Homo sapiens: one gene and its partners. The protein of the gene in region 1 purifies or fractionates together with the protein of each later gene. This does not show direct contact. Each region holds a gene or a part of one and is shown on either strand. Other genes may lie near its edges. The genes, in order: MFSD8, CNIH4 and TMEM106B.

Evidence for each region.
Region 2: the proteins of MFSD8 (region 1) and CNIH4 purify together in Homo sapiens (affinity purification with mass spectrometry; one large-scale study listed by BioGRID and IntAct). This does not show direct contact.
Region 3: the proteins of MFSD8 (region 1) and TMEM106B purify together in Homo sapiens (affinity purification with mass spectrometry; one large-scale study listed by BioGRID and IntAct). This does not show direct contact.

Annotation. Positions count from the first base shown.
Region 1 is NC_000004.12:127,955,159-127,958,813, forward strand, and holds part of MFSD8 (major facilitator superfamily domain-containing protein 8), read right to left. Parts: intron 2,435-3,655; coding exon 2,343-2,434; intron 1-2,342. UniProt on the Homo sapiens protein: Outward-rectifying chloride channel involved in endolysosomal chloride homeostasis, membrane fusion and function. Conducts chloride currents up to hundreds of picoamperes.
Region 2 is NC_000001.11:224,359,763-224,363,417, reverse strand, and holds part of CNIH4 (protein cornichon homolog 4), read right to left. Parts: intron 2,924-3,655; coding exon 2,855-2,923; intron 1-2,854. UniProt on the Homo sapiens protein: Involved in G protein-coupled receptors (GPCRs) trafficking from the endoplasmic reticulum to the cell surface; it promotes the exit of GPCRs from the early secretory pathway, likely through interaction with the COPII machinery.
Region 3 is NC_000007.14:12,224,782-12,228,436, reverse strand, and holds part of TMEM106B (transmembrane protein 106B), read right to left. Parts: intron 1-3,655. UniProt on the Homo sapiens protein: In neurons, involved in the transport of late endosomes/lysosomes. May be involved in dendrite morphogenesis and maintenance by regulating lysosomal trafficking.

The DNA of each region.
Region 1 (3,655 bases):
CTTGAAGAGATATTTGCACACCCATATTGACAGCAGCACTATTCACAACAGCCAAGAGGTGGAAGCAACCCAAATGTCCATCGACAGATAAATGGCTAAACAAAATGTGGTAGGCCAGGCTAGGCTGTAATCCTAGCACTTTGGGAGGCTGAGGCCGGTGGATCACGAGGTCAGGAGTTCAAGACCAGCCTGGCCAAGATGGTGAAACCCCATCTCTACTAAAAATACAAAAATTAGCCGGGCATGGTGGTGGGTGACTGTAATCCCAGCTACCTGGGAGGCTGAGGCAGAGAATTGCTTGAACCCCGCAGGCGGAGGTTTCAGTGAGCCAAGATCACACCACTGCACTCCAGCTTGGACGACAGAGCGAGACTTTGTCTCAAAAAAAAAAAAAAAAAAAATGTGGTATATACTGAAGGCAATCAGAGTATGCTACTCCAAAAATCTGCTGTTTTGCCATATTAATTATCTCAAACTGAAGGCAACCGAGAAATAGCAGATGCAGGAAGGGTTCTCTGCTCTCCCCCTTTCTGCCTGAATGCAGAGAATAGATTGAATTTTGTTTTGTTGTTAATTCTTTGAGGCACAATTGAGATTCTGTTACCTACAATCTGTCTTGGGACATTAAGACACAGGTATAATTAAGACTGTATATTTAAACTTAAGAAATTTTGCACTGGCCAGGCGGGGTGGCTCACGCCTGTAATCCCAGCACTTTGGGAGGCTGAGGCGGGCAGATCATGAGGTCACGAGATCGAGACCATCCTGGCTAACGCCGTGAAACCCCATCTCTACTAAAGATACAAAAAAATTAGCTGGGCGTGATAGCGTGCGCCTGTAGTCCCAGCTACTCGGGAGGCTAAGGCACAAGAATTGCTCGAACCCAGGAGGCAGAGGTTGCAGTAAGCCGAGATCACACCACTGCACTCCAGCCTGGGCGACTCCACCTCAAAAAATGAATAAATAATAATAAATAATAAAATTTTTTTAAAAAGAAATTTTGCACATCTTCAAGAAGTAGCAGAACAAATAATTGACTGATGGCTGTAAAGATGAAATACTTTTGGCCAGGTGCGGTGGCTCAGGCCTGTAATTCCAGCACTTTGGGAGGCTGAGTCTGGCAGATCACGAGGTCAGGAGATCAAGACATCCCGGCTAACACAGTGAAACCCCGTCTCTACTAAAAATATAAAACAATTAGCGTGGTGGCGGGTGTCTGTAGTCCCAGCTACTCGGGAGGCTGAGGCAGGAGAATCACGCGAACCTGGGAGGCGGAGCTTGCAGTGAGCCGAGATCGCGCCACTGCACTCCAGCCTGGGCGACAGTGCGAAACTCCGTCTTGAAAAAAAAAAAAAAAGAAAAAAGATGAAATATTTTTAACTGGGGGCGGTGACTCACGCCTGTAATCGCAGCACTTTGGGAGGCCGAGGTGGGCAGATCACCTGAGGTTGGGAGTTCGAGACCAGCCTGACCAACATGGAGACATCCCGTCTCTACTAAAAATACAAAATTAGCCAGGGGTGGTGGCACATGCCTGTAATCCCAGATACTTGGCAGGCTGGGGCAGGCGAATCGCTTGAATCTGGGAGGTGGAGGTTGCAGTGAGCTGAGATCGTGCCATTGCACTCCAGCCTGGGCAACAAGAGTGAAACTCCGTCTCAAAAAAAAAAAAAAAAAAAGATGAAATACTTTTGTGAGTACATGAAAGTGTTAGGGACTCTTAGTAGTTGTCTAGTTTCGTTTGTATGTACATTCCTTAATGTTATTTGTTTCTTTTCATTAAAAAATATTAACATCAAATAAATTTGTATACTTTTTTAACTGTTAGTCTTTCTTTTGTCAGCTTAATTCACAAGCCTTAAGCACATAGGAGAATAGAGGAAAAATTTCTCCTACCCTAGAATACATATAATGAACTATACAGCCTTTAAATAAAAGGAAATTATCACAAGTGCAACATGAACCAACTTGAGGACATTGAGTGAAATAATCTCATCACAAGAAAAAAAATACTATATAATTCCATTTATATGAGCTATCTAGAATAGTCAAATTCCAAGAAACAAAGTTTGCTAGGGCTTGGGGGATGGGAAAATAGGGAGTTGTTTAATGGGTATAGAGTTTCTCTTTTGCAAGATGAAAATGTTCTAGGGATTGGTTGCACAACAATGTGGATATACTTAAGGCTATTGAACTTAGATATGGTAACACGGTAAATTTATGTCACGTATTTTTTAGCACAATAAAGATAATTTCAGAGGCAATGAAAGTAAATGAAGTAAATGAAGTTAAAATATGACATCTGATCTGAATTGTTAAAATTATGTATTTCTAATACTTACCTACACTGCTGAGAAACATAGTAAGATATAAAATCCTAATAGATCTCCATCGGCTCTTATAATGCTCTTCAGTCTCTAAAATGTCCCATTCTCTAGGTGTAAAGAAGAAAAAAGTAGTATAAATTTATCTCATTACATGTGGATCTTAAGTGTCAACAGTTTTATTCTCTAGTTATGAAAATGATGTGATAGAGGTAGAATTTACCAATATTGATTCTGCTACACTAATTTATCTATGAATAAGCATTATTTTTTTGAATTTCCATGGATTGTATATATGCATTATTGTATACAGAAATTTGGGAAACAGTATAGTTTTAAAAGAGGAAACTTTTTGCAAGGCAATTATTTTGCTACCATTGACATGCACAGATTTATTAATCAAGAGTGTTGCAATTTGTAAAAATGAATAAATTACGTCAAGATAAATCAAATAAACTAGCTACAACTAGATCCCCCGTAGCTACTAAGTACTAAAAAATAATAACTGTCATCATTATAACATGCTCTACTTGATGACAGCAAATTAAATTGCTGCAGGAAGCTCTTTTGGCTTCCTACTTCAGAAAACAGGAATGATACCAGGAAGGTTTAACGTAACCTAAGACATTTTCAGCCCTGGGACCTCCTAAATGGGTTACCAGATAAATTTTATCAGCAGACCAAAGAGAGACCATGACTCCCCAGACTTAAGTGATCTTTTGGATAAGCGTCTGATCTGGACCAAAGGCATGTATACTAAGTAGATATCTTACCTCCATTAGGTGACACATGAGTCTATATACTCATTACATTTTCACACACACAATAGAAAGAGTTAACAAGTTCACCTTAACGTGAGCATTATCTTTTCAAATAATCAAGACATGCAGAACAGACAAAATGCCTTCTTATGTTCCAAGATTAATTTCTTAAAAATAAGCCTTAGAACTGTCAAATTAGTCTTCAAAAAAGAAACTTTTTTTTTTCAAACGTGATATGGTTGGGAGTGGTAAAGAGGAAAGGAAGAAGAGAAACAATGTTTTTAGATGTATTATATGCCAAACATATTAGTTCCTAATATATTTAAAGTGTTTAACACTATATATGTCATTCCATATAAACAAACCTCTTCTGAGTCAAAGGAGATAAGAAAAAAATAAAAATAATGTAGCTTACCTGAGAAAAATACCAGAACCCTAGATGCCCATACTTTGAAATCAATATACTAGAATTTGAATAAAAAACCAGATATATCTAAGTTAGGGAATCAAGAAGTAAATTATTTGATTCTAAAAAAATAATAAAATTGTTTGAGTGACTGATTTAGAGCT
Region 2 (3,655 bases), on another chromosome or scaffold:
ACCAAGAGAATAAAAACCTCTTAAAAATCATCATTTTAGCATAAATGCTACATTTGTTAGAAAATTCAAAAGAAGGCTGGGTGCAGTGGCTCATGCCTGTAATCCCAGCACTTTGGGAGGCCGAGGAGAGCAGATCACCTGATGTCAGGAGTCGGAGACCAGCCTGGCCAACGTGGCGAGACTTCATCTCTATTAAAAATACAAAAATTAGCCAGCATGGTGGCACACCCCTGTAATCCCAGCTACTCAGGAGGCTGAGGCACAAGAATTGTTTAAACCCAGGAGTTGGAGGTGTCAGTGAGCCAAGATAGCACCACTGCACTCCAGCCTAGACAACAAGTGCAAAACTCCATCTCAAAAAGAAAGAAAAAAGAAAAAAAGAAAATTCAGAAGAAAAAGCAAGGGAAATAATAAAAACAGCAGAAAAAAAATCAAAGAGATAAAACTAAGAAAAAGGAAAAATTGGCAGATCAATCCAGCAGATCAATTGTCTAGTTAGTGGATGTTGTAGGAAGAGAAGGAGGGAAAAAAGATGGGGAAGAAACATCAAAGAAAGAATACAAGAAAATTTCCCATATTGAAAGAGCCTATCAGATGTCCAAAACAAACAAGAAAGGCCTTTTAAAAAGTACACAGAGGGCCAGGCACAGTGGCTCATGCCTGTAATCCCAGCACTTTGGGCAGATTACGAGGTCAGGAGATCAAGACCATCCTGGCTAACATGGTGAAACCCTGTCTCTATTAAAAATACAAAAACAAAATTAGCCAGGCATGGTGGCAGGCGCCTGTAGTCCCAGCTACTCGGGAGGCTGAAGCGGGAGAATGGCGTGAACCGGGGAGGTAGAGCTTGCAGTGAGCTGAGATCACGCCACTGCAATCTAGTCTGGGCCACAGAGCAAGACTCCGTCTCAAAAAAAAAAAAAAAAAAAAGTACACAGCGATACAGCACTGTAAAATTTCAAAACACCAAGGATAAAGATTCTAAAACTTTCCCATAGAGGACAGGAAAAGAGAGAAAGAGAGAGAGAGAGAGAGAATGAGAATGAGAATCATATAGAATAGATGAGAAATTCTTTGGGAGGCTGAGGCGGGCAGATCATGAGGTCAGGAGATTGAGACCATCCTGGCTAACACGGTGAAACCCCGTCTCCACTAAAAAATACAAAAAAATTAGCCGGGCGTGGTGGTGGGCGCCTGTAGTCCCAGTTACTTGGGAGGCTGAGGCAGGAGAATAGCATGAACCCGGGAGGCAGAGCTTGCAGTGAGCCAAGATCGCACCACTGCACTCCAGCTTAGGCAACAGAGTGAGACTCCGTCTCAAAAAAAAAAAAATGGCATGGTACTTCCCAACTTGAACCACTGGAAGTCAGAAGACCACCAAGGGGTGTCTTTAAAATTCTGAAAGAAAAATCTTTTCCAGCCTAGAACCCTGTACTCTGACAACTATGAATCAAGTGTAAAGATAAGACATTTTCAAACATGGAAGGCCTCAAAATTTAATTGGCAGTTACCTTATCTCAAGAAGCTACATGAGGCTGGGCGCAGTGGCTCACAACTGTAATCCTAACACTTTGGGAGGCCAAAGAGGGCAGATCACTTGAGCCTAGGAATTTCAGACCAGCCTGGGCAACATAGTGAAACCCTGTCTCTACAAAAAAATTTTAAAAATCAGCCAGGTATGGTGGCACACACCTGTAGTCCCACCTACATGGGAGGCTGAGGTGGAAGGATCGCTTGAGCCTAGGAGGTCAAGGCTGCAGTGAGCCATGATCGCATCACTGCACTCCAGCCTGGGCAACAGAGTGAGACTCTGCCTCAAACAATCAAACAAAATTTATGAAAATTTTTAAAATATGGAGCTTAGGCCAGGCATGGTGGCTGACACCTGTAATCCCAGCACTTTGCCAAGACAGCAGGATTGCTTAAGGCCAGGAGTTCAAAGCCAGTCTAGATCACATAGCAAGACCCAGTCTACAAAAAAATTTAAAAATTAGCCAGGTGGCTGGGCACGGTGGCTCACACCTATAATCCTAACACTTTGGGAGGCTGAGGCAGGCGAATCACTTGAGGTCAGGAGTTTGAAACCAGCCTGGCCAACATGGTGAAACCCCATCTCTATGAAAAATACAAAAAAAATTAGCCAGGTGTGGTGGCAGTGCCTGTAATCCCAGCTACTTGGGAGGCTGAGGCAGGAGAAACGCTTGAACCTGGGAGGCAGAGGCTGCAGTGAGTCCAGATCACACCACTGCACTCCGGCCTGGGTGACAGAGTGAGACTCCATCTCAAAAAAAAAAAAAAAAAAATTAGCCAGGCATGGTGGCATGCGCCTGTAGTCCCAGCTACTCAGAAGGCCGAGGCAGATCACTTGAGCCTAGGAATTCAAGAATAGCCTGATCACCACTGCAAGAAACCTTCTCTCTCAATAAATAAATAAATAAATAAAGAGTCATACATTAAAAAAAAATTATTTTCTCGGTAAACTACACAAGAAAGGTCTTCTTTCATTCAACCAAAGACAGACTTGAGCTTTTTTCCGTGAGTGGGAGGAGGGAGTTCCAACGCAGAAGACAAAAACAATTACCCTCATGATGAACATTTCCCTACTCTGAGTAAAGATGCTATCCGCTGTAAACAAGAGACAAGCAACATATAAAGAAACAAAATTTCAAGTCAGATCTTCTAGCATAATTTCATGATCTAAAATATTGTAAAACACAGCAGTTCCATCAAATTTCCAATGAATAAGAGACAACATGTACTCTAAAATCAAAAATACATCTGTTATCTATAATAATCTTAAGTATGGAAAATGACCTGGCTTCAATGCCAGAGAATGAGCAAAGAAATGTCTTACCTTGTTTAATTTTGAGCAACATGATCTAGCATTAATGTAATCACATTCTAAATCAGACAATGTAATTATCTGATGATCAAGATAAGGAATTATTATATTTCTTTTATAATAACTAAGTATTTAAGTTTCAGAAAGCAATCCCAGTTACAAGGCAGAATTAGATTTGACTTGAAAAAAATGAGTTGTTTCCTAAAGTTTGCTCATTAGACAACTCAATTTTCCCATTCATGTTCCTTCAACAAATTATTTTACAAAATAATCCTATTTTGCTCAAATCTAATCTGACCCAACCAGAACATTTAGTTTGAGTTCTTCAAATGTAAAACAATGGCTATTAAAAAAAAAAAAATGGGAAATATCCCAGCACTTTGGGAAGCTGAGGCAGGAGGATCGCCTGAAGCAGGAGTTCAAGATCAGCATAGGCAACATAGCAAGCCTCCATCTCTTTCACCCAGGCTGTAGTGCAGTGGCGCAATTCCAACGCACTGCTACCCCTGCCTCCTGGGTTCAAGCAATTCTTGTGCCTCAGCCTTCCAAGTAGCTGGAACTATAGGTGCGCGCCACCACCACACCCAGCTAATTTTTTGTATTTTTAGTAGAGACGGGGTTTCACTATGTTAGCCAGGCTGGTCTCGAACTCCTGGCTTCAAGTGATTCACTCACCTCACCCCCATCTCTACAAATTTTTTCTTTTTTTTTCATTAGCCGGGCATGAGCACCTGTAATGCTAGCTATTAGTAGCAGTACTGCTAAGGTGAGGCAGCAAAATGCCTAGAGCCCAGGATTCACGTTACACTGAGC
Region 3 (3,655 bases), on another chromosome or scaffold:
TTTTACAAGGTATTAACAAATGTGAAAACCAAGATGCACATAAATAAGTACTAAATAATATTTTTTAAAAATACTGATTTTTATAAAGCTGAATATGTGAGTATACATAAATGTTAATAGGAATATGTAGAAAGATATGAAAAGATGCAATATGGGATGAGTTGAAGGAGAGAAAATAGTTTTAGTAAAAAAAAGGATGAAAGAATATGCTAGAGTCAGCAATTATATGATTACATTTATGGAGTCATTTACATTGGTATAGTCACAAATGTAAAGAAATTTCAAAAATGTTCTCAAACACAGTAAAAATAATCTTTAAATATATAAACATTTTATCTATTTGGCTCTTAATGTTCATGTCAATTTCATTTCTAGACATGATAGGAAAGAGATAGTTAATTTGAGGTCAATGGATCTTCTGATAAGACCAAGGATTGAAATTTAGAAGAATCTTGGAAGTCTTTGTATATGCAAAATTATGCTGGTACATGTCTTTTTCTGTACTGTCCACAGTTTCATTAGAATATTTAAGGGATCAATGATGTAATACAGGTTGAGAATACAAATCCTTATGAGAATTAAGACAAAGAAAAAATAAGACAGAATAAATAAAAATTTAGTAATAAAGGTTAGACATTTGTTGCTCAGAGTAGTGAGAATCCATTTAATTTAAAAGATGAAAAGAGATCACCATAATTGTTAACAAAGACCCTAAACTACCTATGATCTTTAATTGGCAAATGTACTTTCAGGAATTTATCCTAAAGAAATAACCTGAAATGGAAACAAAGTTTAAGCACAAAGATGTTTTCCTAATATTTGTAATAGTAAAATTAAACATTCATTAAGAAAATGGTTGAATTAATTATAATATGATCATGTAAAAGACTACACAAGACCATTTAACATGGGAAAATGTACTGTGACCTCAGTTGAAATGTGCATTTGTATATATGTGAATGAATGTGTGTATCCTTTACACATGAGAATGATTACATTTGTAAATGTATATGCATTGTTCGTAAATATATGTATATGGTAATAGTTCGACCTAGGTAGCAGAAGTAAAAATCTTTATACATTATAGTTCTCAAATGTCTTATAATGACAAATATTTTCATAAGTAGAAAGACAAATGTTACTAAAAAGTAGTACTACTAATATATACTAATCATTTTAAGAAAGCAAAGCAGTTCCATTTTCAACATACTTATAGATAATGTACAGAAAATTCAGCCTCTTATCTCATTGTCATCTAGTTAATGTTCATCCAAATAATCTTATTTTTCATTTAATGTTCAGTCTGTCTCAGTTTAAGTGGCAGTATTCCAAAATGTGAGAATTTCTGCATAATTACTTAAAATAGAGTATGATATTCACATTTAAATATACTTGCTGGTACTTAAAAGAAAACATCACAGGGTTTTTTATTATTTATTAGTACATATTTATGTTATTTGACATGAAAAAAGTCTTTGGAGGTAGGCCAAAAAAAGTCTGGCCAATGTTTTAAACAGTGTATAAAAAAGAAAATATGTTCCTTGTTCCAAAGGGCTAAGTGAGAAAATACCCAACAATTCCCCAGTTGCATAAAACAATTTACAATTAGCATTGTGTTACAAACGTTTTATTCACATATACGTATATTTTCCTATATTGTTGTTTTTAAAGAAAAAGCCCTTAAACCGGCAACTTTTGACAGAAAGCAATAAGAATAAATGGATCCACGGGATCCATTTTTTCTCTGTAATTAAGTAGTGATTCCACTTTAACATACCATTCCATTTCACTCACTGTCCTGACAAACCTCCCTCTTTCCAACCACCACCACAGACATCTCTACCTCAACCTTAACCACACCATTAACCTCTGCAAGAAAAAACAACTATCACTCTTCCTGGCAGATCACTGTCACTCACATATATCTCATGGCTGGCCAATAAATATTATCCCTTTTCCTAATTCAATAGTTAGCAAACCGTGCTCTTTTCAAACAAACGTTAACATGTAAAACAGGTAGAAAACCTCTCTAAGGTTTTTGTTTGTTTTGTTTTCATGAGTGGCAAGGCTACACGGTCCTTTCAAAAACAATGTCCTAAGAAACACACATTGTTTGCAAAAAGAACAAAGCTGGAGGCATCACTTCAAACTATACTACAAGGCTACAGTAACCAAAACAGCATGGTACTGGTACCAAAACAGAGATACAGACCAATGGAACAGAACACAGCCCTCAGAAATAATACCACACATCTACAACCATCTGATCTTTGACAAACCTGACAAAAACAAGAATGGGGAAAGGATTCCCTATTTAATAAATGGTCCTGGGAAAACTGGCTTGTCATAAGTAGAAAGCTGAAACTGGATCCCTTCCTTACACCTTGTACAAAAATTAACTCAAGATGGAGTAAAGACTTAAATGTTAGACCTAATATTTAAAAAACCTAAAACCATAAAAACCCTAGAAGAAAACCTAGGCAATACCATTCAGGATGTAGGCATGGGCAAGGACTTCATGACTAAAACACCAAAAGCAATGGCAACAAAAGCCAAAATTGACAAATGTGATCTAATTAAAGTAAAAAGCTTCTGCATAGCAAAAGAAACTATCATCAGAGGGAACAGGCAACCTAAAGAATGGGAGAAAATTTTTGCTATCTACCCATCTGACAAATGGCTAATATCCAGGATCTACAAAGAACTTAAAAAAATCAAACAACCCCATCAAAAAGTGGGCGAAGGATATGAACGGACACTTCTCAAAAGAAGACATTTATGCAGCCAACAGACACATGAAAAAATGCTCATCATCACTGGCCATCAGAAAAATGCAAATCAAAACCACAATGAGATATCATCTCACACCAATTAGAATGGCGATTATTAAAAAGTTCAGGAAACAACAGATGGTAGAGAGGATGTGGAGAAATAGGAACACTTTTACACTGTTGGAGGGACTGTAAACTAGTTCAACCATTGTGGAAGACAGTGTGGTGATTCTTCAAGGATCTAGAACTAGAAATACCATTTGACCCAGCAATCCCATTACTGGGTATATACCCAAAGGATTATAAATCATGCTGCTATAAAGACACATTAACACGTTATGTTTATTGCAGCACTATTCACAATAGTAAAGACTTGGAAACAACCGAAATGTCCATCAATTATAGACTGGATTAAGAAAACGTGGCACATATACACCATGGAATACTATACAGCCATAAAAAAGGATGAGTTCATGTCCTTTGTAGGGACGTGGATGAAGCTGGAAACCATCATTCTAAGCAAACTATCACAAGGACAGAAAACCAAACACCACGTGTTCTCACTCATAGGTGGGAATTGAACAATGAGAATACTTGGATACAGGGAGGGGAACATCACACACCGAGGCCTGTCGTGAGGTGGAGGGATGGGGGAGGGATAGCATTAGGAGAAATACCTAAAGTAAATGATGAGTTAATGGGTGCAGCACACCAACATGGCACCTGTATACATATGTAACAAACCTGCATGCTGTGCACATGTACCCTAGAACTTAATAATTAAAAAAAAAAAAACACGGCATTTTCACATATGCTAATTTACAAAAGAGAAACCAGTCACCTGTATTTCATCTTTAAAGCTGATAAAGGAATGGTCTATTAAA